Regions from separate parts of the Homo sapiens genome. Here all the other regions are linked to region 3. The links come from fine-mapping of genetic effects on gene expression. A gene starts in region 3. Each other region holds a variant in brackets. All regions are shown on one strand. Distances are between the middles of the regions.

Region 1 (8,182 bases), 120 kb before region 3:
GCCTTACCCAATGCTCACCTCCTCCTAGCCTGGCCTCCAATCCTATGCCAGCTTTTCTGGAGCACCTTTGGGGTCCCTTTCCATGTATCATTTATTTTATTACCTAGCTTCCAACCAAAATTTGTTCCACTTCGTGTTTTCTGGTTTAAATAAATGAGTTCTATATTTCGACAGAACGGACAATGGGTTTCAGCAGATACCCATGATGTACATTTCATAGCTATCTACTTCAGCGCCTTTCTCAAATTTGCATATAACAGAAAATTTGTTTACCATAGATTTTAAAGAGGCAGTAGAGGAGCACTACTGCATAAATCAAAGCTGGGAGTGAAACAGGGGTACTCTAACAGGCCAAGGCATAATTTATCCAGATTTATTTTTCGTCAGACCACTACTCAACTGGCCATGAAAATTACTGTTCCTATTAGCTCTTCCTTCAGTCACCAAAAGAACCAAGCAGCTGCTGTATTGACAAAGTATTCACTTCTCACAGAGGTGGGGAGAAGCAGAAAAACTCAGATCTGAAGCCACTGGCCTGGGTCCATTCAATAAGCTATGAGAAATACCTGAGATAACGCTTGGGCTTCTGTTTGGAGCTACACGGTTTTTATTCTACTCTCTCACTGTACAAAATTCAATACCTTCCTGGCATTGAGTGGCAATAGCCCAAGGTGATAAGCAGTGAATCACAACCAACTTCATTGAGTGGTTTTTTGCAGCCTATAAATAAAATCAGAATCTTTGAAGCTAGTAAACCTTGTGAGGTCTGAGTATCTCAAGGTTATTCATTTCTGAACCTCTCTGGAAAGAGTATAAACACAATCAAAAGAACTATGGTTTATGATTCACAGAATTTCTTCATGCACAGAAATTCACCTTTTAATTATCAGAGCATTATACTGAAGCATTGCAGACCTTTAACTTCTCAGCCCCTGTGTTACCAATAAAAATAATAACAATAATAAAGTCAATTTTCCAGCAGTTAAGAAGTACAAAGGTGCCCTCTCCCTCTCCCTCTCCCTCTCTCTCTCGCTCTCGCTCTCCCCACGGTCTCCCTCTCCCTCTCTTTAAACGGTCTCCCTCTGATGCCGAGCCGAAGCTGGACGGTACTGCTGCCATCTCGGCTCACTGCAACCTCCCTGCCTGATTCTCCTGCCTCAGCCTGCCGAGTGCCTGCGACTGCAGGTGTGCGCCGCCACGCCTGACTGGTTTTCATATTTTTTTGGTGGAGACGGGGTTTCGCTGTGTTGGCCGGGCTGGTCTCCAGCTCCTAACCGCGAGTGATCTGCCAGCCTCGGCCTCCCGAGGTGCCGGGATTGCAGACGGAGTCTCGTTCACTCAGTGCTCAATGGTGCCCAGGCTGGAGTGCAGTGGCGTGATCTCGGCTCGCTACAACCTCCACCTCCCAGCAGCCTGCCTTGGCCTCCCAGGGTGCCGAGATTGCAGCCTCTGCCCGGCCGCCACCCCGTCTGGGAAGTGAGGAGCGTCTCTGCCCGGCCGCCCATCGTCTGGGATGTGAGGAGCCCCTCTGCCTGGCTGCCCAGTCTGGAAAGTGAGGAGTGTCTCTGCCCGGCCGCCATCCCATCTAGGAAGTGAGGAGCACCTCTTCCCAGCCGCCATCCCATCTGGGAAGTGAGGAGCGTCTCTGCCCGGCCGCCCATTGTCTGAGATGTGGGGAGCGCCTCTGCCCTGCCGCCCCGTCCGGGATGTGAGGAGCGTCTCTGCCCGGCCGCCCCATCTGAGAGGTGAGGAGACCCTCTGCCCGGCAACCGCCCCGTCTGAGAAGTGAAGAGCCCCTCCGCCCGGCAGCCGCCCCATCTGAGAAGTGAGGAGCCCCTCCGCCCAGCAGCCGCCCCGTCTGGGAAGTGAGGAGCGTCTCCGCCCGGCAGCCACCTCGTCCGGGAGGGAGGAGGGGGGGTCAGCCCCCCGCCCGGCCAGCCGCCCCGTCCGGGAGGGAGGTGGGGGGATCAGCCCCTCGCCCGGCCAGCCGCCCCGTCCGGGAGGTGAGGGGCGCCTCTGCCCGGCCGCCCCTACTGGGAAGTGAGTAGCCCCTCTGCCTGGCCGGCCGCCCCGTCCGGGAGGGAGGTGGGGGGGTCAGCCCCCCGCCCGGCCAGCCGCCTCATCCGGGAGGGAGGTGGGGGGGTCAGCCCCCCGCCCGGCCAGCCACCCCGGTCCGGGAGGGAGGTGGGGGGGTCAGCCCCCCGCCCGGCCAGCCGCCTCGTCTGGGAGGTGAGGGGCGCCTCTGCCCGGCCGCCCCTACTGGGAAGTGAGGAGCTCCTCTGCCCGGCCACCACCCCGTCTGGGAGGTGTACCCAACAGCTCATTGAGAATGGGCCATGATGACAATGGCGGTTTTGTGGAATAGAAAGGGGGGAAGGGTGGGGAAGAGATTGAGAAATCGGATGGTTGCCGTGTCTGTGTGGAAAGAGGTAGACATGGGAGACTTTTCATTTTGTTCTGTACTATGAAAAATTCTTCTGCCTTGGGATCCTGTTGAACTGTGACCTTACCCCCAACCCTGTGCTATCTGAAACATGTGCTGTATCCACTCAGGGTTGAATGGATTAAGGGCGGTGCAAGATGTGCTTTGTTAAACAGATGCTTGAAGGCAGCATGCTCCTTAAGAGTCATCACCACTCCCTAATCTCAAGTACCCAGGGACACAAACACTGCGGAAGGCCGCAGGGTCCTCTGCCTAGGAAAACCAGAGACCTTTGTTCACTTGTTTAACTGCTGACCTTCCCTCCAATATTGTCCTGTGACCCTGCCAAATCCCCCTCTGCGAGAAACACCCAAGAATGATCAATAAAAAATTAAAAATGAAAAAAAAAAAAAAAGAAGTACAAAGGTGAGCAGCAAAACATTAGCTTCAGGAAAACACTACAGATCTAAATTGTTTTTAAAATGATTAAATTGATTAAATGGAAAGAATAAATGTAATTCCTCATTATGCCACAATGAAATTTCAAAACAGTTATTCAACAAATGGCAAACACCTCTTTAGAAATCTGGGTAATTTGAAGTGGGGATTTTCAATTTGTTGGGGGCATCTGCCAAGACCCCCTTCTCTGTCCCCCAATACTTCCAATTCAAGGATGAGATCTGGCACTGCCATTTTGGCATCAGATGAGCCTGGCTGCTCTACCTCCCACCTTTGCTGGGCAAAAAATGGGCTGAGTCAATCCGATTTTTCCTCTCAGGAATTGAAAATACAATTGGAAAATGCTCAATGTGTTTCTCAAGTTGCTTCAATAACTGAGACATAAACTCAGAAGCTATAGTGCAGCCTGGTTTAGCCATGTGGAGTGAAAGCCAGTTTAGTGAGAGAAAGAAAGAAAACAGAATAGGGTGCTGAGCTAGCATTCTAATTCCTGATGTAAAATCTTCCTTAGGCCCAGCTGAGCCTGAGTTCCATAACCTATTAGAATTCTTTCAGTAAATTTTCCTTTTTGTTTAATTTAGAAGATTTCTCTTAATTTCAGTCTATTTTAATCAGGGCTGGAGTCACATAAGTATGGGATGAGAGGTAAGCAATGCTAGAATGATCTTTCTGCAAGTGAAAATAAAATAAGATAATCATCAAAATTCAGAGCCAGAAAGCCCTTTGATCAAAAGAGATGGAGCTGACGCACCATTTGAGAATTTGATTCCTATTTCTGTCATGTATTTATTATAGTATCTTAGTTCAAAACCAAAGAGCCTCAAGTTTCTACATGTCGAACAGGCAACACTTCCTTTCCAAAGGCATTTCCTGCTGTCCTCCCTGCCCCCAACCATACTGATACTCAGCAGGTGTCTCTTGCATCTTCCCTCAAGTGTTAATTTGCTCATGTTTAGCTTCTTCTCAGAAGCCTACAATGGTTTCCAACTGCTTCATATGTCAAATTAAAACTGATAAAGTGCTTCAACCTTTAGTTCTGCATTATCTAACCACTGTTGTTACCCATTATGCCTAGTTCAGTCCTAGCATCAGCCCTCTGTTCACCACCCATGGCTACAAGACTCCCACTTTAAGTTGAGAGCACAGCAGCTGCTGGTGCCTCCTCTCAGAAATGGCACATGAAGAGTAAAGAAGAGGAATCTTGGAGTCTAGA[C/T]ACTTCGATACCAGTCCTGATTCTTTTATTAACCTGTCATCATTTAATTTCTACAGGCCTGACTTCTCTATAAAATGAAGATGCTGAGGTTTGACCACTGGATTTCAGCTTTTTTCCTGCCCCAAATCATCTAAGAGGGATGGCAAGGACACATGAAAGATTAAGTAACAACTTTTTTTTTTTTTTTTGAGACAGATTCTCACTCTGTCACCCAGGCTGGAGAGCAGTGGCACAATCTTGGCTCACTGCAACCTCCGCCTCCCGGGTTCAAGTGATTCTCCTGCCTCAGCCTCCCAAGTAGCTGGGATTACAGGCGCGTGCCACCACGCCCAGCTAATTTTTTGTAGAGACAGGGTTTCACTGTGTTAGCCAGGATGGTCTCGATCTCCTGACCTCATGATCTGCCCGCCTCGGTCTCCCAAAGTGCTGGGATTACAGGTGTGAGCCACCACGCCTGGCCAATAATAACATTTTTAAAAAACAGAACAAAATATGTCACATCAACTGAGTAAAAAAATAGCCAGAAAGACATTGCTGTTGGCTTGGATGGCATCACAGCAGAGGTAGAACTTGGCTAAACTATGAAGGAAAAGAAGGACATGGATCAATGGAAGGGCTGCACTTATGTCAATTAAGCTTTCATTTACTTTTGTGTTGGTTGTTCACAAATAGTATTAATAGATCATTGGAAGAAACATATATTAAGAGACTGGACTGGAAAGGAAGAAACTATTCTAAACACTTACCAAACACATATTGAGAAGGTTCTTGATAAGGCTAAGGATAGGGCTAAAGGAGAAACTCAAAGACAAATGGACATAATCCACCACAGTCTAACCTCTGAGGGCAAGGACCATATCTGCTTTGCTCACACTGTGCTCCCAACCCCTAAGAGCACCTTGCAACAAATAAATATTTGTTGAAAGAATACAAAAACATAGCCCCTACCTTTAAAAACTTATGATTGTTTAAAGAAAAAAAAACAGAGAACAAAAGAGAGTATGTTGTCCATTCCCTTCGGGATCCCTAATAAGCCCGGCATCAATTTCACTTATGGGGAGCCCTCCAGGGGATAATAGAGGGAGGAATGTAAACTTCACACAATAACCATTTTATACAATAAATGAACAAATTCCACTGTGTCAGCAAGTAAACAAATCTGTCACTTGACTCATTCTCTATGCTTACCATTAGCTGAGAATGAGCCTTTTAATAGAAAAGAATAAGTCACTCCACAATGTTAAGCCCAAAAAAAACCCTGAAATATACATTAATTTACTTCAAAATGCCACCTCTTCTTAAGTTGATTTTCTCCTGCAACCGCCTCAACCACAGGCAATTATGTCACATGTGCCAGATCCATGTGGTCCAAATGACAGCCCCCCTAACCAAATGTATTACCATAGCAACAAAGGGACTGCATTTGCCATTCTCTAACTGCCAGGGCCTGATCAATTATTTAACATGCCTATACTACAGTGACAGTGTATAAATGATCATGTTCATTAGCAGCAAGAGTCAGCTCTCAGAAAATCACAAACCCCTGACAGCTAAATTGATCACAAAACCAAACACACTCTCCTTGACGGTGATGTTAAAGATCACAGTGTAAAGGGATGGAAGGAGAACAAACTGTTCTTAGTTTTAAGCTTCCACTTTAGAACTGCATTAGCATTCACTCTCCCAAGATCTTATTGTGAAAAAAGGAAGAAAGAATGAAAGAAAAAAGACACACAAATTGATTTTATACAAGCAACACGTTATCAAAAGTTGCTGAAAATAATATGATTAGATGAGAAGATTGGAAAGCCAAAGGACAAAATTTGTCTTAAGCTTGTTTGATGGTTTTGGGTTTTGTTTTTCTTCTGTTCCACTTCTGGGTTATTTCTCATTAGAAGAATAGGCAGGGAAGTGAAAAATTGGATACTGAAGGGAATTCACAGTAGGCAGCAGCCAGCAGTGACTGTCCTCTCTCCCAACCTGGTTAAACCTCCACTGACTTTCCACAGGGAGATTCCTGAACAGAGAACAACTGAGGATGTCCATTTGGTTCTGTGAGAAAGGAGAAATCATTTCATCAAGAATTAACCAGAGATTGAGTTCAGTCCAGGACTCTGACAATTCACTACACAAAACTTCAAAGCCAATACAACTAAAACAAACAATTCTATTTCACGAGCTGAATCCAGGAAGGGATTAAAGTCGGTTAGAGTGGCCCCCATACCCTGTATCCACAGTGATCCAGAAACTGGATCAGCACTGAAGGCTGGAATCAGCACTGGGGCTAGAAGGAAGGGCAAATAAATGGCTTTTTTACTCACTTCATTGTGTTCTTTCATGGAGGAAAGAGAGAAAAAGGGGACAGCCTGCCTAAAGATTCTTATTGATTTATAATAGATCATAGAGTGATAGTGAAAGTTTCAGACATCTAAGAGTTTTTATTTTGCTAAAAATAACCAACATCAGCCAGGCATGGTAGCTCACACCTGTAATCCCAGCACTTTGGGAGGTCGAAGTGGGAGGGTCACTTGAGCCTAGGAGTTTGAGACCAGACTGGGCAACATGGGGAGACCCCATCTCCACAAAAAATTTTAAAAATTAGCCAGGCATGGTGGCACATGTGTGTGGTCCCAGCTACTTGGGAGGGTGAGGTGGGAGGATCACTTGAACCTGGGAGGCCAAGGCTGCAGTGAGCTGTGATCATGCCACTGCACTCCAGTCTGTGGGACAGAGCAAGACCCTGTCTTGAATAAATAAATAAAAAAATACATACATACATACATACATACATACATACATACATACATACATACAAACTGACATACCCGGAAAGGAAGCCTCCAATTTACTGACAAATTAGAAGGCAGATATAACAGTCCGAATAACCCATTCTTATACAAGGTTCCTATGATACTGTTCTAGGTATAGTCCTTGGTCTTTGTGCTTTACCAAGATCTAGCTTCCTACAAGCTACAGCTATCAGACCCTGATTAGACCGCAGAGACGACTAAATAATTTATGAAAAGTGTAGTTTTCCAGTATAGTAGTCCTTCCATCACAGATATTAATTGTTGTTATGGTAAATGCAAGAAAACCTCTTAAAAGGTTATGATATACATTTATTTCACTGTTCATATGGACAAGAATATGAAAAAAATTATTAAATATTCATCCAAAATGACTGTTCCTCCCTTAAAATCCACCTTCCCCAAGAAAAGAATCACAAACACTTAAAATAAAATCTAGGGTAGCCTACATACCACAAATTGCTTCTCTAAGTGGATAAATTGTTACATAAAGAAGCTAAGCATTTACAAACACTTCATGCAGTGGTATAATTTTATTTATACACACATAAAATAAAAACATGCACCTCAGGGATCATTTACACAACTAAATGTCTTTCTGATTACCATATACAAAAGCTCAAGACAGATAACCTCTCACATCTGACAATACATAGGACATGTGTTATAACCACTGTTCTGTTTCCATAATTGAGTGAATACCTTTAAACAATCGGTCAAATATCTGACTCCCATTTTCAATCTTGCAACATGCATGCAAATACATGTTTACAATATATTACAGAACCCATGGAGAACACTAAGTTCTAAGAAAGCCTTTTTGAAGTTTTTGTTCTTTATACTTCTCTACTCTAATAATTTTAGTTACTAGTATAATAGTAACAATCCATGAATGACATTTAGAAGCAAAGTGAATTTTCCTCTGCCAGCTGACGAGGACTTCATGGCTGCTGGTCACAGTACTCACTCTACCTTCTTGTTAATAGTAGTTACTGTCATTTGTCACTGAACTAAAAATTAGAATATATTATGTAAAGCTAAAAGTAATGTTATACATATTTGTCTTGAATTTTGTTTATAAATTATTTCTACCACTTGCACTCAAGTAAAGATTAAACAACAGAAGTAATATACATCACAGTACAGTTTTTAATAATAAAAAATTATAAACTTAAAAATGTCCAACAATGGCAAAGTGATTCCATATGATTTATGGAACATTCATAGAATATACCACTACTAAAAATGGCACAAGACCAAAATAATCAAAGTAGATCAATA
Region 2 (8,182 bases), 83 kb after region 3:
AGGATATTCTGATCACCTCAAAAAGAAACCTTATACCCATTGGCCATCACTCCCCATTCTCCCCTCCCCTGGCAACCACTAACCTACATTTTGTTTCCATAGATTAGCCTATTCTAGACATTTCATATAAACAAGATCATAGGAATCTTTTGTCTCTGGCTTCTTTAACTTGACATAATGTTTTCAAAGTTCATCTTTTTTTTTTTTTTTTTTTTTTTTTTGAGACAGAGTTTCACTCTTGTTGCCCAGGCTGGAGTGCAATGGCGGGATCTCAGCTCACTGCAACCTCCACCTCCCGGGTTCAAGTGATTCTCCTACCTCAGCCTCCTGAGTAGCTGGGATTACAGGCATGCGTCACCGTGCCTGGCTAATTTTTTGTATTTTTAGTAGAGATGGGGTTTCACCATGTTGGCCATGGTTGGCCAGGCAGGTCTGGAACTCCTGACCTCCTGAACTCCTGGCCAGGCAGGTCTGGAACTCCTGATCCACCCGCCACAGCCTCCCAAAGTGCTAGGATTACAGACGTGAGCCACTGTACCCGGCCTAATTGGGTTTTTAAACAACTATTGTTGTTTTTTATATGTTCTGAATATAAGGTCCTTATTAGATATATGATTTGAAAGTATGTTCTCCCCTTCTGTCTTTTCACTTTAATAATCGTGTCCTTTGAAACACGAAAGTTTTAAATTTTGCTAAGTCCAATTTATTTTTTCTTCTGATATTTATGTATTTTGGTATCACATCCAAAAAATTATTTTTTCAACCATGGTCACAGAGATCTAATCCTATGTTTTCTTCGAAGAGTTTTATAGTTCTAGTTCTTACATTTAGGTCTATGATCCATTTTGAGTTAATTTTTGCATATGGAATGAAATAGGGGCTCAAATTCATTCATGTGCATGTGGATATCCAGTTGTAAAGACAATTCCTTCCCTGTTGAATTATGTTGGCACCCTGTCCAAAGTTATATCTTTATTGAAGAACTTACCAAGTTTTGTCTCGTTTTGTGTAAACTGTATAGACCTTCCTCTCTCATTGGAGGACAGGGAACATGTTTTGTTCTTTTGCAATGAGAAGACATATGTGAAAAGCACCTACCATAGGATGTGATCATGGATATTTCTTTCCTTCTTTTGAGTCTCCCCACAGCACCTAGAGTGGTACTTGGCACACAACAGTTACCATAAATGTTTGCTAATTGTAGAGTGGGCTTGGGCATGCACCACCCACCCACCACAAAAATGTGGATTCCCGAAGCTCTAATTGGCTGGGAAACCCAGAACAACTTTCACGCCTTTCCAAATTAAGATTCAATGGCTGGGCTCAGTGGCTCACGCCTGTAATCCAGCGCTTTGGGAGGCTGAGGTGGGTGGATCACGAGGTCAGGAGTTTGAGACCAGCTTGGCCAACATGGTAAAACCCCGTCTCTACTAAAAATACAAAAATTAGCCGGGCGTGGTGGTGCATGCCTGTAATCCCAGCTACTCGGGAGGCTGAGGTAGGAGAATCCCTTGAACCCGGCAGGCGTAGGTTGCAGTGAGCCGATATCGTGCCACTGCACTCCAGCCTCGGCAATAGAGTGACTCTAGTCTCAAAAAAAAAAAAAAAAAAAAAAAATTAAGACTCAATGACAGTAGAAACTGACTCCAATGGCTTAATGAAATGGTACTGTTGGTCAAGGTAGGGATTTTTAAATTATTCATCCTTGAAGGGAAGTGACAAATAAGGTTTCACTTACCAAACATTTAAAACAACCCTAAAGGTCCAGAACCTTTGTTTTATTGTTGTTGGCTTAATTTCCAGTTCTCTAAGTGTCTACTTATTTAATCGCTTATGCAGTAATAAAGTTTTAACTTGTGGATTTGACCTCAATTCCACAGAATCGATTGTGGTTCTTATCTGCTTAAAAGCGGAAAGATTTTCTCAGGCGGCAACAGCCACTATTGAAAAGGCAAAGAAACAGCACTCAGGTGTGGCAGGCAATTCTATTTTCAGTGACCCTTTTCTCCCTTTCTTTTTCTCTCCTACTTGCTGAACATTAGGAGCTCTTGGTAATCTCTCAGAAATAGAGCAAGACGCCAAAGATAAAGGCCTGTTCATCGCACTCAGGAATTTCCTAAGGTTTCATGTCCAGGTAATATTTCTGCCTGCTACTTGGGTATCTTTTGGTGAAATTCCAGAATCTTTTCCTCTCTGTGTGAAAGTAAGTACGTGCACCTACTGAACCTAAGATGTGTATTGTGCAGGTACACACAACTTTGGTTACACGGTTCTTTCCAGCTTTGAAAAACTTTCTTAGGGGTAGCTCACACAGCTAAGTGCTTCAAATTACAGTTTCTGACTCCAGAGCCAGTGGTCTCTCCACTTCCCCTAGTTGCCTCTCTACAAATAATCACGTATGGGTCTCTTTAACACATTTCTTCCTGTTCTTCTAGGAATTGTAGCCATATCCTAGCCCTAAATGAACTGGAATACAGTGAGGCTTGATTTATTATTAAACATTTTTATTAGACTTTTTTTTTTTTTCGAGAAGGACTCTCGCTCTGTTGCCCAGGCTGGAGTGCAGTGGTGCGATCTCCGTTCACTGCAAGCTCTGCCTCCTGGGTTCAGGCCAGTCTCTTGCCTCAGCCTCCCGAGTAGCTGGGACTACAGGCGCCCGCCACCACGCCTGGCTATTTTTTTTTTTTTTTGTATTTTTAGTAAAGACGGGGTTTCACCGTGTTAGCCAGGATGGTCTCGATATCCTGACCTCGTGATCTGCCCGCCTCGACCTCCCAAAGGGCTGGGATTACAGGCATGAGCCACCGCTTCCAGTCTTACTAGACTATTTTTAAGAACAGTTTTAGGTTCACAGCAAAATTGAGCTAAAGGTACAGAGATTTCCCATGTACCCCCTGCTCCCACACATGCATAGCCTCCCCCATTATCAACATCCCCCACCAGAGTGCCACAGTTGCTACAATTGATGAACCCACATTGACACCTCATAATCACCCAAAGTCTATAGTTTACATTGCGGTTCACTCTTGGTTTTGTACATTCTTTGGGCTTGGACAAAGGCATCCGCTATTACAGAATCATACGCATAGTAGTTTCACTGCCCTAAAAATCCTCTGTGCTCCCGCAAGTCTAGGTTTTTAAGGGCGAAAAGAGAGGGAAAGAAAAAAGTGTGCATTGCAGAGGCTCGACCCAACTCCAAGCCAAGTTTGTTCCAAAGTTCAGCAGCTCCCAGCTGTCCCATCTCTCCCAGTTCGGCCCCGGTCGGGTTCCTCCTCTTTTTGTTTAAGTGTCAAACAAATGGGTTTCCTGTTGACACTGGAATATCGTGAAAAGGCAGGAAGAGGCCAGGCCACCTCCTCTTTCCCCTCTTCCTATCCCGTTTATTTATTTTGCACACGTTTGTTTGGGTCGAGCTGGTGTTTCCAGCGT[G/A]TGTGGCTGTGGGGCGGCCTTAGGGGCCGATAACCCCTCCCTGAGGAGGCGAGGCCAGCCCCGAACCCGCCCGATCCGCGGTGGAGCTCTACGGGGCGGGGAAGGCAAAGAGGAAGGGGGAAGAGAGCGGGAGTGGGAGTGGGAAAGGCCAGGGATTAAGAGGCCGCCGGGACGCCGCAAGGAGGCGGGGAATCGGCTCGGCCCGCGCCCTGCCGCTGCCCGGCCGGCTGCAGGTGGAGTTCGCGGAGGTGGCCATTTCCACAGCCGCCGCCGACGCCTCCTCTCCGGGAGCCGCCTTCCCCCCGGCCCGAGGGCGGTGGCGTGGGGCGCCGGGTGCAGGCGTTCTGGGGCGCCGGGGCCGCAGCTCGCTGGCCATCCCGCGGCTGCGCCCCGCGCCTCGCCCATGGCTGAGGGCCGGCGGCGGGAGGACGAGGAGGAAGAGCTACGCGAGCGCCGCGAACTTGGTGGCCAGCGCCGCGCCCGGGGCCGTGCGCTCTCGGGCCACTCGGCCGCAGGTGAGAGGCGCGGGGGACGGGGCGGCGGGGACCCAGAGCTGCGCGCTCTGGGGCCGCTCGGGTCCTGCCCCACACAGCGGCAGCTCCTTCACGCGCCGGGATGGGACCGGCTTCTTTAACTCTCAGAGGCCAGACTCGGGGAGGGTGGCATTTCCATCGCCATCCTCACTTTCCGGCCGAGCCCGAGGAAATTCAGACCCGTCTTTAACTGCTAGTGGTCGTACAGCTGAAACTCAAATTTTCCGTGCACACTAAATCCAGGAGCTGCTGGCTTGGGACTTGTGGCCTGGTTGATGACTTATCTCTGGATGAGTCAGAGGTCAATGGCCGTCTCGGTGGACAACGACACCTTCCGAGGGGTTTGCCTGCGCCGCCGCAGCCAGGTCAGAGCACGTGCTCATAACTGAGGCAAGTCCTGTTTCGGCGTCCCTTGCACTTCGGACCTGTGACCCCCCTCCCTCCCTCCCCCAGCCGCCGAGCTCACCAGTTTTCTGTAGGACTTGTTTTCGTTAGTTGTGAGACCCTCCCCCACGCAAAGAGAAGTCCAGAATATAGCATTCCAAAAGGCCATTCATTTGGGCTGAGAATCATTTTCGGGCCTGTAATTACTTTTATGATACTGTGTTTTGGGTACACAAAAGCGGCACGGATCAAATAGTTTGGCACATTAGTGAAAGAGTGAATAAGTGTAGATCCACACCCCTTCCCTCTTCCGGGCGGCTTTTCAATCAAACATAATAGAGAGGACATTCTTTGGCCTTTGGTTCCAACTGGGTAATCCGAGTTATCTGAAAACAAGAGGGAAGAACAAACCTAGGGGGACTGGCAACAAAAGGGAGATAGGGAAGTGAGAGAGTCGGAGGAGAACGATTCACTGAGAGCCTCATTATAAAGTGGAATATAGCGAATATTCCATGAAGTGGAGAAGCTTTTCTGTGTGACTCCCTTAACCACTAAGAGAAAGTTGGAAAAATAGAGAAGATATTGTATCTGTGCGGAACAAATGGAGGGTAGAAAGTAGGATGAAAGGAAAACTTGAGAAGAACATCTTGAAGAAATAGTCAATTTAATGCCTTTGGTAGAATCTTGGAACATAAAAATAATTCTCCATGCTCATTATTACAACTTTTCATCAAAATAAGGCATTTGGCTGTCTATATGAACACCAGTTTTGAACATAATTGGTAATTTTGTTCAGTGTAAACCCAAACCTTGTGAAATAATGAATAGTTGCTGGATATAAGTGAATATTTCTTGCAAGAGTACAATGAAAAAACTTTACAAAGATATACCGCCATGCCTGACCTATGGATTTAAACAGGGTAGGCCACCTTAGATTCCTGTTACCTTCAGCAGAAAGCTTCATTCTCACAAGAGACTGTACAGTGAAGACCTGTTTTGGAGTTCAGACTAGATGTGATCCAGATGTGTGTTTATCATTTAGTTGCAATATGTGTATTTATTCCAAAGCTGGTGGAAATGACATTTTGTAATTAGTTTTCACCAGTTCCCTAATTTCTCAAGGTTGACAAAGGCTTTTCTAGGTTCTTTGATAATATTTTGCTGAGACATGACATTGTGTACTTTTTGCATTCAGTAATTGGTGTTTGTAGTTTTCTAACCATTTATATGCCCTTTTTCCATTAAAGGGTGTGAGGACGATGTAATGGAATGAGTAAGAGGGTTAAACTTGCGATTTTTGGATTTATTTCTTTTAGAAGAAATTATTTAATAGTTTACATTTCTTTACAAGCTGAGCTCCACTTTCCCCTTATTAGTTAACATGTTTTTCAGACACTAACACATTCCTTACCAAGCTTGGGCATTTGTTAGTTATGTCTGTGCTAGATGTTGCTCTCCTCCAAGTGAGAGGGTATGAACTGACGCAGAAGCTTCATGTTTTTTCTGCATCACCTTTTCAGTTTTTCACTTTTCCTGTTCTCAGTGCTCCCTCCTTCCCTTATCATTTTACAATCTAAAGAGTTTCCTTTTCTCTGATTTCACCTAGCTTGATAACCATAAACCTGGGGTTTATGGACTTAAGGTAGTCTGTGAACTCTTCCTTCTCTCCCTGATAAATTTTGGAGTGGTTGTGTAAGTGCATTTATTTATTTTTGTAACTTACATACAGAAGAACATATGAAATTTGTAAATTATAAAGTAAAAACTCTTGTAACTCATGCTCAAGTCAAGAAATAGGATATAGTCAGTTCCTTAGAAATGGATTCCCATCCCTCCTAGACTTAGCCTCCTCTCTCCCCTAGATGTAACCATTTTTTTAACCTTTGTGGTTATTATTTCCTTTTCATTCTGTACAGTTTTACCATACACATATGCATCTCTATAAAATATTGTTTAGTTTTACCTTTTTAAGATCATTTAAGTGGAATTGTCCTGTATTTTATCAACCCAGCAGAAAGCAAGTAATGACTTGAGATTATGAAATGTCTGGAATGAGTTCTTTTCATTCAAAGGCCAAGAGCCCCAGGCAGGTTCTGAGCACAGGACAGTCCTTGTAGGGCATCCTTAGGAAATAAATGTGTGTGTGTTTTTAAAATGATGTTAAGAAAATTGGGTTTGATTAATCACAGTTTTATTTTACAACAAAGGATGATAGTTGATCTGGTGCCCAACTTCTTTATAAAATGTATTTATGTTTCCCAGCTTTTAAAGTAATAAAATATCTTCAGCATGATTCTAAAATAAATAAAAAGCTCAGTTGAATTTTTTTTTTTTTTTTGGCAGAATTATAGGCAATCAAGTACTGAGGTCAATTCAGGAAAGGTTTTTTTTTTTTTTTTTTTTTTTTAGGCAGAGTCTTGCTCTGTCGCCCAGGCTGGAGTCTAGTGGCGTGGTCATGGCTCACTGCAACCTTCACCTCCCAGGTTCAAGTGATTCTCATGCCTCAGCCTACAGAGTGGCTGGGATTACAAGTGTGCACCACCATGCCTGGCTAATTTTTCTATTTTTAGTGGAGACGGGGTTTCACCATGTTGGCCAGGGTGATCTCGAACTCCTCCCACCTCAGCCTCCCAAAGTGCTGGAATTACAGGTGTGAGCCACTGCACCTGGCCAGTGAGGGTTAATTCTGTAGTAGCTCATGATGCATGAGATTAATAAGCAGTTATAGGAAAGTAAATGGGGAGCAGAGAGTATTCCATTGTTTGGGTTTCATGTGCTGAGGCTAAGGTGTCGTAAATCTGGCACTATGTGAAATATTTACTGTTGATGGTGGTATCCAAGATCCTTAATTGCCTGACCTGACAGAGAGTGGTAATATGAAAGCTAGACACAACACCTGAATTCTTGGGGGTGTCTCACTAATCCACCAAATGCCCATTACAAACAAGGAAGAGAGGATGTGGGTACACTAATCCAGTGGTTCTCAAACTTTTGCCACATGTATCTGAATTGCCTGAAGGCCTTGTACACGCTCAGTATCTGATCACTTGGTCTGGGATAGGGCCTGATAATTTTCATTTTTGACACATTCCCAGATAACATTTATGTTGCTGGTTCAAAAGGATGATGCACTTTGCAAACTCCATGTAATTAAGAGAGAAATCACACCCCAACACAGATTGTTAAATTCTAAGAAATAGTTCCTTTGGCTAATTTGTCCTTTTTAGTAGATCAGATGAAAACCCATGAGATAAACATGGAGATTTCCACAGGCTAACTTATAGGACTTAGTTTCCATTGTGGGTTTTCTCGGTAGCTTAAAGGATTTCATGGTTGATTTATACAGCCTGGCATTTATGATCAACTTCATTTTTGTTTCTTGGTTTTTTTCTTTCTGTTATTGATTGCATATTCTTCATCTCTATCTGCACAACTGAGATTGGTGTGTTAGTGCCACTGTGTTAGTGTTAGTTAGTGCTAGCCAAGGGCAAGAAGTGGAGGGTGGGGGGAATAGGCGGACGAGATTGGGTGACCAACTCTTCCCAGTTTCCCAGGACTTTTCCAGCTTTTAAAACTGAAAGTCCCCCATTCATGGAAACTCCTCAGTCCCAGGCAAATCAAGGATAGTCACCCTAGAGGAAGGATAGCTTGGGTGGGGGAAGAAGGGAGGATAAAGGCTACTGATAATGTTATTTATACTAACATCCCTGCTTTAGTCCAGGTGCTTTTTTCACTCAACATTAAGTTTGTAAGATTTATTTGTATTGTTACATGTAGCTGTGGGTTTTTGTTTGTTTTGAGACAGAGTCTTGCTCTGTTGCCCAGGCTGGAGTGCT
Region 3 (8,182 bases):
ACAATATACAGGAGCAAAGAGTATGCCCATAAAAGTCCCTTATTATTGGCCGAACACAGTGGCTCACGCCTGTAATCCCAGCACTTTGGGAGGCCGAGGTGGGTGGGTCACCTGAGGTCAGGAGTTTGAGACCACCCTGGCCAACATGGCGAAACCCCATCTCTACTAAAAATACAAAAAAAATTAGCTGAGCATGGTGGTGGGCACCTGTAATCCCAGCTACTCAGGAGGCTGAGGTAGGAGAATCGCTGGAACTGGGAGGCAGAGGTTGCAGTGAGCCGAGATCACACCATTGCACTCCAGCCTGGGCAACAAGAGTGAAACTCCGTCTCAAAAAAGTCCCTTATTATCTCTGAACCTCATCTGCTTTCCTCCTGTGTAATCTAAACACAATGGCATCTACTACAAAATGGTTAAATCACAAGGCACAAACATGGTACATGAAAGCACTCTGTGAAACATAAAGCACTACAGAACTGTTCACTTCTGTTATTGTTTTCATTAAGAGATCCCTATAAATGAAGTTCCTGGAGTTTCTTGTCACTCTTGAGCACTGTTCCCCTACCTGGGCTAAGAACCAAGGGTTGGAAGTTGCTAAAAATAAGGATGAAGTAGATCTAAATTGTGTTTCAATGGCAGAATCTGATCCAGATCTTCACTGGGCCTACGTATCACCCTAGAAGACAGATGTACACAGAATAAAGATCAAGTGTCTAAACAGATTAAATAAAGCAATTTTGCTTTATATTTGCATGGAGAAAGGAGGTTCCTTATTAAATTTTCTTTATGAAAGTAATACAAGAGGCCAGGCATGGTGGCTCACACCTGTAATCCCAGAATTTTGGGAGACCAAGGCAGGCGGATTGCTTGAGTCCAGGAGCTCAAGGGCAGCCTGGGCAACGTGGCAAAACCCTGTCTGTATGAAAATACAAAAAATTAACAGAGTGTGATGGCATGAACCTGTGGTCCCAGCTACTCAGGAGGCTAAGGTGGGAGGACTGCCTGAGCCCAGGAGATCAAGGCTGCAGTGAGCCGAGATCATGCCACTGAACTCTAGCCTGGGCCAGAGAGAGAGAGAGACCCTAACTTTAAAAAAAAAAAAATATATATATAATTTCACTCCTCAGAGGCAATTCTTGTTTTTTCTCATTTTACCTCCATATCTCTACATAATATATTTGTACATCTGCTTCTTGTTTGCAGTCATTATCTATCAAGTTCCTATTAAAGAAAGAACTTAGCAGAGAAAGTATTTTGAACCAATCTTGGGAGGCAGAGTACAGAACTGTCCAGCAATGCATCACTCTGACTATGTAAAAATAAAACACTCCTTTTATTTCTAGTCTTCAAGTCCTCCATTAAAAGTCCTACACAATGTCTTTATATGAGAGCCAAGAAAAAAGGTAGCTGGGCAGTTGGACCTAAATTTTTAGACCACTCTCAATCACTCTCTGAATCCACTTCAGTGATGTCCAGTTTCTCTGCCCCTTTCCAGCCACCCTACACAGTTTAATCCTGTTCCTTGTCCTACAGGACAAATGATAAATAGGACCCCAAACTTAATTTATTTCAAGACAGGCATGGACATAATTCTTATGAGCTCTGCGGAAAGGGATTAACTGGAACTAAAAAGATATCAACCTTTAATTATGCGAAAAGTTACCTAAAGCCAACAAGTATACTGTATTAAAGAGTAAATTTATGGACTAAATATCCTGCTCAATTTCGGTCCAAAGAAGACCTTTGAAGTTCTCCAAACGTGGACTTCAGCTGTGGTTCACTACATGTGGACAGCTTCGGGGACAGCATCCTGCCTAGTGCCAGGTGTACAAGTGAACTTGAGGTCAGGCAGGTGACCCTGACAAGCAGGCATAATACATTAAGGAGAGGAAATCTTCCCTCTCATTAATCAACAGGATAAAGGTAATTAAGCAGGAATTATTTTTCAATGACCTATATAATTTCATCAGGGCTGCTATGACTATTAGCAGGGAGCAGCTGACTTCCTAATGAGATGAATTTGATAGCACAGCCCTTCCAGAGAAGCCAAGGGAGCAAGCCCAATCTATAGGGAAGCAACAATTGTTAGGCATTGTTTACTCCTCCTCCTGAAAGCTGTCTCTCCTTCTCAACATTTGGCTCTTTCCCTTCAGGGGGGTTTCCCTGTCCCTGGATAGCTGGGGCTGCAGCATCTGCTGAATAGTGGAAGCTAGATCTGCTGTGAATGGGTGGGTCCAGGAGGCTGGGACACTAATTCACTAGACCTGCTCATGTGATTCCCAAAGTCCCAAGCCAACAAGGCTACCGCCGCCTGCACCAACACCTCGCTCTGACCAGGCCTGAAATAAGACACCAAGGTAGTTCTTCCCACTCCCTAGCAGAAGCGGAGTTAACAAGGGACCTTTGTTGAGCCAGAGGAAACACAAACACATACACACTATCAATAATAACCACGACTTGAACGCAGTTTCATCACAGAATTTACGAAATTGAGCAACAGCTACCTAACCAGTAAGTCCTTACACCAGGAAAGGGCTGCAAACCTCAGAGGGGCACCGCCTCTGTCTCCTGTGTAAGCAAGTTGATTTACAGGGGAAACCTGAACTCCACATCTCTTTGCCTTTTCCTGTGCCTCCCAGAGGACCCTGGGACCAAGGAATGGGATGGAGGGCCCTAATGACATATTCCTTCGTCAAAACAAGCTGGCTCTCTCTCTCCCAGGGTCAGTCACCGCGTTACGCCCCGTCCCGGAGCCCGAAACCCTAGAAGTCACCTCCTCCCCCCTGCGCCCCCGCCCGACGCAGCGACCTCGTTTGGAACATCCCCAGCCGGCCCCCAGCCCAATGCCTGCTCCCTCAGCCCAATGCCCGCACCCCCTGCCCAGTTGGCGGATGCAGAGAAGGGACATTTCGACTCTCCCTCCTCCTTCAACCCTCTAAAATAAAAGAATCCCTCAAGCGCAAATCTCCGGCCAGCACAGCACCTACCTGTCCCCGGCCGTGGCTCCTCCTCCCCGAGCAGTGGGGCTCGCTGGACAAGTGTCCTCAGATAGTCCAGAAAGTTTGCTCTGCGGTCCCGGGGACGCCTGCGCGGGACCCAGTGAGGAAAGCCGGGCTGGCTCCTCGCACCTCGGGCGGCCGCCGCTCGAAAGTCTTGGCCCAGGTCCTCCAGGCCCGGCTCAAACTCAGGAGTGCCCGGGAAGAATGTAGGTCGTGAGAAGGTCGGAGCGCAACTTTTCGAAGGTGCGTCAGCCGCGGGCTGAGGCGCGTGGGTCACTGCCTCCCCCCAGCCTCTCCCTAGTGAGCGCGGGGGGGGCGGGGGCGGGGGCGGGGGCCGGGGCGGGGCAGGGGCGGGGGTGGGGCCCAACCTGCCTGGAGGCCTCGGGGAGCGCGCCCCGGCCCCGCCCCCGCCGCCGCCGGCCCCGCCTCTGCCGCTGGGACACGCCGCCGCCAGGTGCGCCGGGGACTTAGGCAGTGCCGCGCCGCACGGCCCGCGCCGGTTTCCAAGGTGAAGGAGGAGGAGCCTCTGAGGGAAAGTTTCCACAGAAACTTGAGCTGGGCGCAGTGTAGCACTCGCGCCCTTGGGGGCTAGCGTTTGGCCGGAGCTACACACTCTTTACTCACGCACGCACACCGCCGTACACAGCACAATCGTTCACCGTCCCGCCAAAGGCTCGTCTCTCGGGTTCTGCCTAGTGGAAGGAGTCGGACAACGCCGCACGTCACGGGCGTTTCGGATTTCTTGCTTCCCAAAGGTTTGACGGCGGCCACCGGCGCCCCGGCCCAGCTCTGCTTTCCTTTGCTGACTCCTTCCTTTAGGTGTGAATTTTAAAATGCTGATACCGCCCCAAGAGAGCTGAGTCAAGTGAGGCAAACGTTCGCCTGTTGTTCTCCTGACAGACTCCCTGCAGTGGGCAGGGGAAATGTGGCCTTGGCCGACATTAATGAAGTGCCAGGATGGAGGGAGGGGGCCTGCTGATTTGTTCTGTTTTACTTTTTAAGGGTAACTAGAGCGTTACTGGAGTCGTCTGTGGGTTTGGGGAGTATGTGGCGCGTGTGTGTGTCACACATTTCACTGGCAACTCCCGCCAACCCCTTCCCAAGAAATGAAGGCTCTAATGTGGGCAGTTCTGCAACAAAGGTGAAACTTCCCCAAATCACGATTCCCCGCAAGATGAGAGAGCAGGTGCAGCATCCATTTTCCCACTATCACGCTTGAGATGGTGGCTTTGGGCACTGCCGGGTGCCCCGACATCCTTCCCAGAGCCCAGCCTTCCCACCCAGGCCCGGCCCTGCGCGGCCGCCTGCCTTTGCATCAGAGACCGCGGCTGTGCCATTGCCAAGGTGGGCAGCGCCGCCTCGCTTCCCCATTCCTCCGTCTCCCACGCCTCTTGCGTGTTTGAGTCGCGAAGTGATGGACTTTAAATCTCAGAGGAGGAATGAGAAACTTGGTTAGTGGCTCTCTTGGCATGTTCGTAGCCCTGTGGTTGAAGTGGCTGAAACCTGCGTTGAGCCTCAGTCCAAGCAGCTGGGGCCACACCAGTTTGCAAAAGCGGATGTGGCAGTTTCCACCGCAGCAGCAGCCTGCTGGCGCCTCATCAGATTCTCCTTTGGAGGAAGTATCTTCTTCCCTTCATTCTCGGTGAATGGCATCCAGAGATAACCAAAATCAGGTGTATCTAGTTTCAAGTTCTGTCTTGCAACCGTGATAATTGGAGGATGCAAACTTTACACTTTCTTCTCTAGCTGTCTACCACCACTGCTGCGCTTGTGGATGACTGCAGGAACACCGGGTACTTGCCACAAGTATCTCTCCAGATTCATCAGCCTTTCACCTGTGACAAGCTCAGTCAAGAAGTGGCTCCTAAGTAAAAGCTGGGGAAGAACAAGGAAGATAGAGCTCAGAGTAGAAAGCTGTGAAGTTCTGCACAACAGGTCCCCTTGGCCTGCTCTAACAGTTGGAAGGTGGGGGAAGCATTCATTTACTCAACAAATATATACTGAGTGCCTTTTGCATGCTAGGCACGCTTCTAGGGGTTGAGGACACAGCAGAGAGCACAAACAACAATTCCAGCCCTCGTGGAGCTTACCTCTTCCACGTGGGAAAGACAGATGGTAAATGTATAAGGACAATATATGGACTGCTGTATGATTAGAAATGCTATGGAGAGGCTAGGAGTGCTGTCTCATGCCTGTAATCCCGCAGTTTGGGAGGCCAAAGGAGGAGGATCACTTGAGGCCAGAAGTTGGAGACCCAACCTGGGCAACATAGTAAGACCCCCTATCTACAAAAAGTTTAAAAATTAGCCAGGCATGGTGGCGTGCACCTGTAGTCCTAGCTATCCAGGAGGCTGAGGTGGGAGGATCACTTGAGCCCACTGCATTCCAGCCTGGGTGACAGAGTGAGACCCTGTTTTGAAAGAAAGAAAGAAATGCTGTGGATAAAAATTAAGCAGAGAGGGTACATAGAAAGTATGAGGGGTGCTATGTTCGGAGAGGGGTGATGATCAAGGAAAGCTTCTGGAGGAGGTAACATTTGAGGAACGACTTGAGGGAGGTTAGGGATATCTGAGCAGACAACTTCCCAGGCAGAAAGCATAGCAAATGTAAAGGCCCTGAGGCAGGAGTATGCCTAAGTGTACTAGGAGCAATCCAGAAGGCACCATGAAAGAATGGAGAAGATGAAGTCAAAGAAGTGAAAGGTGGGGGTGATGCAGATCAGGTAAGGCTTTTACTCTGAGTGAGTTGGTTGGAGCCATTGGAGGATTTTGTGTAGAAAAGTGACACTTTCTGACATTGTAATTGGATCACTTTGACTGCTGGGTTAAGAATAAACAGTAGGGTGTAAGGGTAGAAGCACAGAGACTGGTTAAGAGGCTACTAAAATAATCTAGGGTCAGCCGGGTGCGGTGGCTCATGCCTGTAATTCCAGCACTTTGGGAGGCCAAGGTGGGTGGGTCACAAGGTCAGGAGATCAAGACCATCCTGGCCAACATGGTGAAACCCCGCCTCTACTAAAAATACAAAAAATTAGCCAGGTGTGGTGGCACGCACCTGTAGTCCCAGCTACTCAGGAGGCTAAGGCAGGAGAATCACTTGAACTCAGGAGGCGGAGGTTGCAGTGAGTAGAGGTTGCAGTGAGCCGAGATTGCACCACTGCACTCCAGCCTGGGCGACAGAGCGAGACTCCATCTCACAAAAAGATAATAATAATAATTGAGGGACAAGAAGATAGAGATGTGGACCAGAGAAATAGTGGTAGAGATGATAAGCTGATGGTTTCCTCACATTGGATGTGGGGTATAAAGGAAGGAGATGAGAAGGACTCTGAGGCTTTTGGCCTGGGCAGCATAAGGATGGAACTGCTATAACAAAGTTGGAGAAGACTTCAAAAGGAGGTTAGGGTAAAATCAAGGCAGGAAGGAGAGGCGCATAATTTGAATGTGGGCAGCGTAAGGACGGAACTGCTATAACAAAGTTGGAGAAGACTTCAAAAGGAGGTTAGGGTAAAATCAAGGCAGGAAAGGAGAGGCGCATAATTTGAATGGTCTTCAGTTTCTTCAACTTATAAAATGAAAGTAATACCTACTTTGTTAAGGTTGTTTTAGGATGACAAATTAGCATAGTGAAGTGTATAACACAATGCCTAATACATGATAGACACTTAAGAATGTTAGTTCCCTCTCTACAAATATGAATTTCATTCATATCCATTATGCCCTCTGGGAGTGAAACAGACTCATTCTTTTGAGGAAATAAGTCTTGCTAAAGGTAAAGGGGCTGTCTCCTTCTCCCATTCTTGCCATATGACACTGTCTGCTCTCTCTTTGTCTTCCACCATGAAGACAGGCATGGTAGCTCATGTGGAAGCTTCCCGAGGCCCTCACCCAGAAGCAGATGCTGGAGCCATGCTTGTACAGCTTGCAGAACTGTAAGCCAATTAAAACTCTTTTCTTTATAAATTAAAATAGATAAATAAAAATAAAGGATAAGCAGATGTGGTGGTACGGGCCTATAGTCCCAACTGCTTAGGAGGCTGAGGCAGAAGGATCAATTGAGCCCAGGAGGTCGAGGTTGCAGTGAGCTTTGAGTGCCACTGCACGCCCACCTGGGCAACAGAGTGAGACCCTGTCTCTTCTTAAAAAAAAAAAAAGTTGGAAAATATCTATTACATGGAAATATATTTATAATATTGTATAAAGTAAGTCTACTATAAAAGTAAGTGTGTAAAGTAAGATTCTCTTTACAAATATTAATAATGATTATCTCAGCCAGGCATGGTAGCTTATGCCTGTAATCCCAGAACTTTGGGAGGCCGAGGCAGGTGGATCACCTGAGGTCAGGAGTTCGAGACCAGCCTGACCAACAAGGTGAAACCCCGTCTCTACTAAAAATACAACAATTAGCTGGGCGTGTTGGCAGGCGCCTGTAATCCCAGCCACTCGTGAGTCTGAAGCAAGAGAATCACTTGAACCTGGGAGGCGGAGGTTGCAGTGAGCCAAGATTGCACCATTGCACTTCAGCCTAGGCAACAAGAGTGAAACTCCATCTCAAAAAAATCATAATAATAATAATGATTATCTCAGTACTAGGATGACAGTTTATTTTTATTCTCTGTGCTTTTCTCTACTTCCAAGTTTTCTGCCATAGGAAGGTATCACTTTCTCTCAGGAGTGGAATTGCTGGATGATAGGCTGTATATACAATGAGATTTAGTTGATACTGCCAAACAATTTTCCAAAGTGATTATACCAATTTATGCTCCCACTGACAACATATAAGAATTCCAATATGGAGCAGTGCGTTTTTTAACAGCATCATCCAGTTAAACAGCAATTAATTTGAACCTACTGCTTTAGAAGTTAATTAAGCAAAAGTTAAAAATAAGTATATTGGCTGTAAATGCATATATTAGTAACAGTAGCCGTTTCTAAATCATGTTTTTTATTAATGTATTTCATTTTATTCTTTTTGTTTTGTTTTGTTTTGTTTGAGACGGAGTTTCACTCTTTGGTCCAGGCTAGAGTGCAGTGGTGCAATCTCGGCTCACTGCAACCTCCGCCTTCCAGTTTCAAGTGATTCTCCTGCCTTGAAATTGCAATCCCGAGTAGCTGGGATTGCAGGCGCCCACCATCATGCCCAGCTAATTGTTGTATTTTTAGTAGAGATGGGGCTTCACCATG

Evidence for each region.
Region 1: its variant is fine-mapped to the expression of FHIP1A in whole blood (TOPMed, PIP above 0.99).
Region 2: its variant is fine-mapped to the expression of FHIP1A in whole blood (TOPMed, PIP above 0.99).

Annotation. Positions count from the first base shown.
Region 1 is chr4:151,520,402-151,528,583 of GRCh38, reverse strand. All of the region lies in intron 3 of FHIP1A (FHF complex subunit HOOK interacting protein 1A), which reads right to left. Among named protein-coding and RNA genes, the nearest start is that of FHIP1A, 120 kb to the right of the region's middle. RefSeq lists an enhancer at 3,533-4,097. The variant C/T (reference allele first, on the strand shown) is at 4,095.
Region 2 is chr4:151,321,003-151,329,184 of GRCh38, reverse strand. SH3D19 (SH3 domain containing 19) reads left to right here and starts at 3,580. Exons shown (of 20, transcript NM_001378122.1): 1 at 3,580-3,944. The coding sequence starts at 3,833. The variant G/A (reference allele first, on the strand shown) is at 3,430.
Region 3 is chr4:151,404,271-151,412,452 of GRCh38, reverse strand. It overlaps FHIP1A (FHF complex subunit HOOK interacting protein 1A), which reads right to left and starts at 3,277. Exons shown (of 14, transcript NM_001109977.3): 1 at 2,988-3,277. It overlaps FHIP1A-DT (FHIP1A divergent transcript), which reads left to right and starts at 3,561. Exons shown (of 3, transcript NR_183963.1): 1 at 3,561-5,270; 2 at 6,845-6,930. RefSeq lists silencers at 3,318-3,487, 3,608-4,080 and enhancers at 3,307-4,006, 4,007-4,706, 4,538-4,847.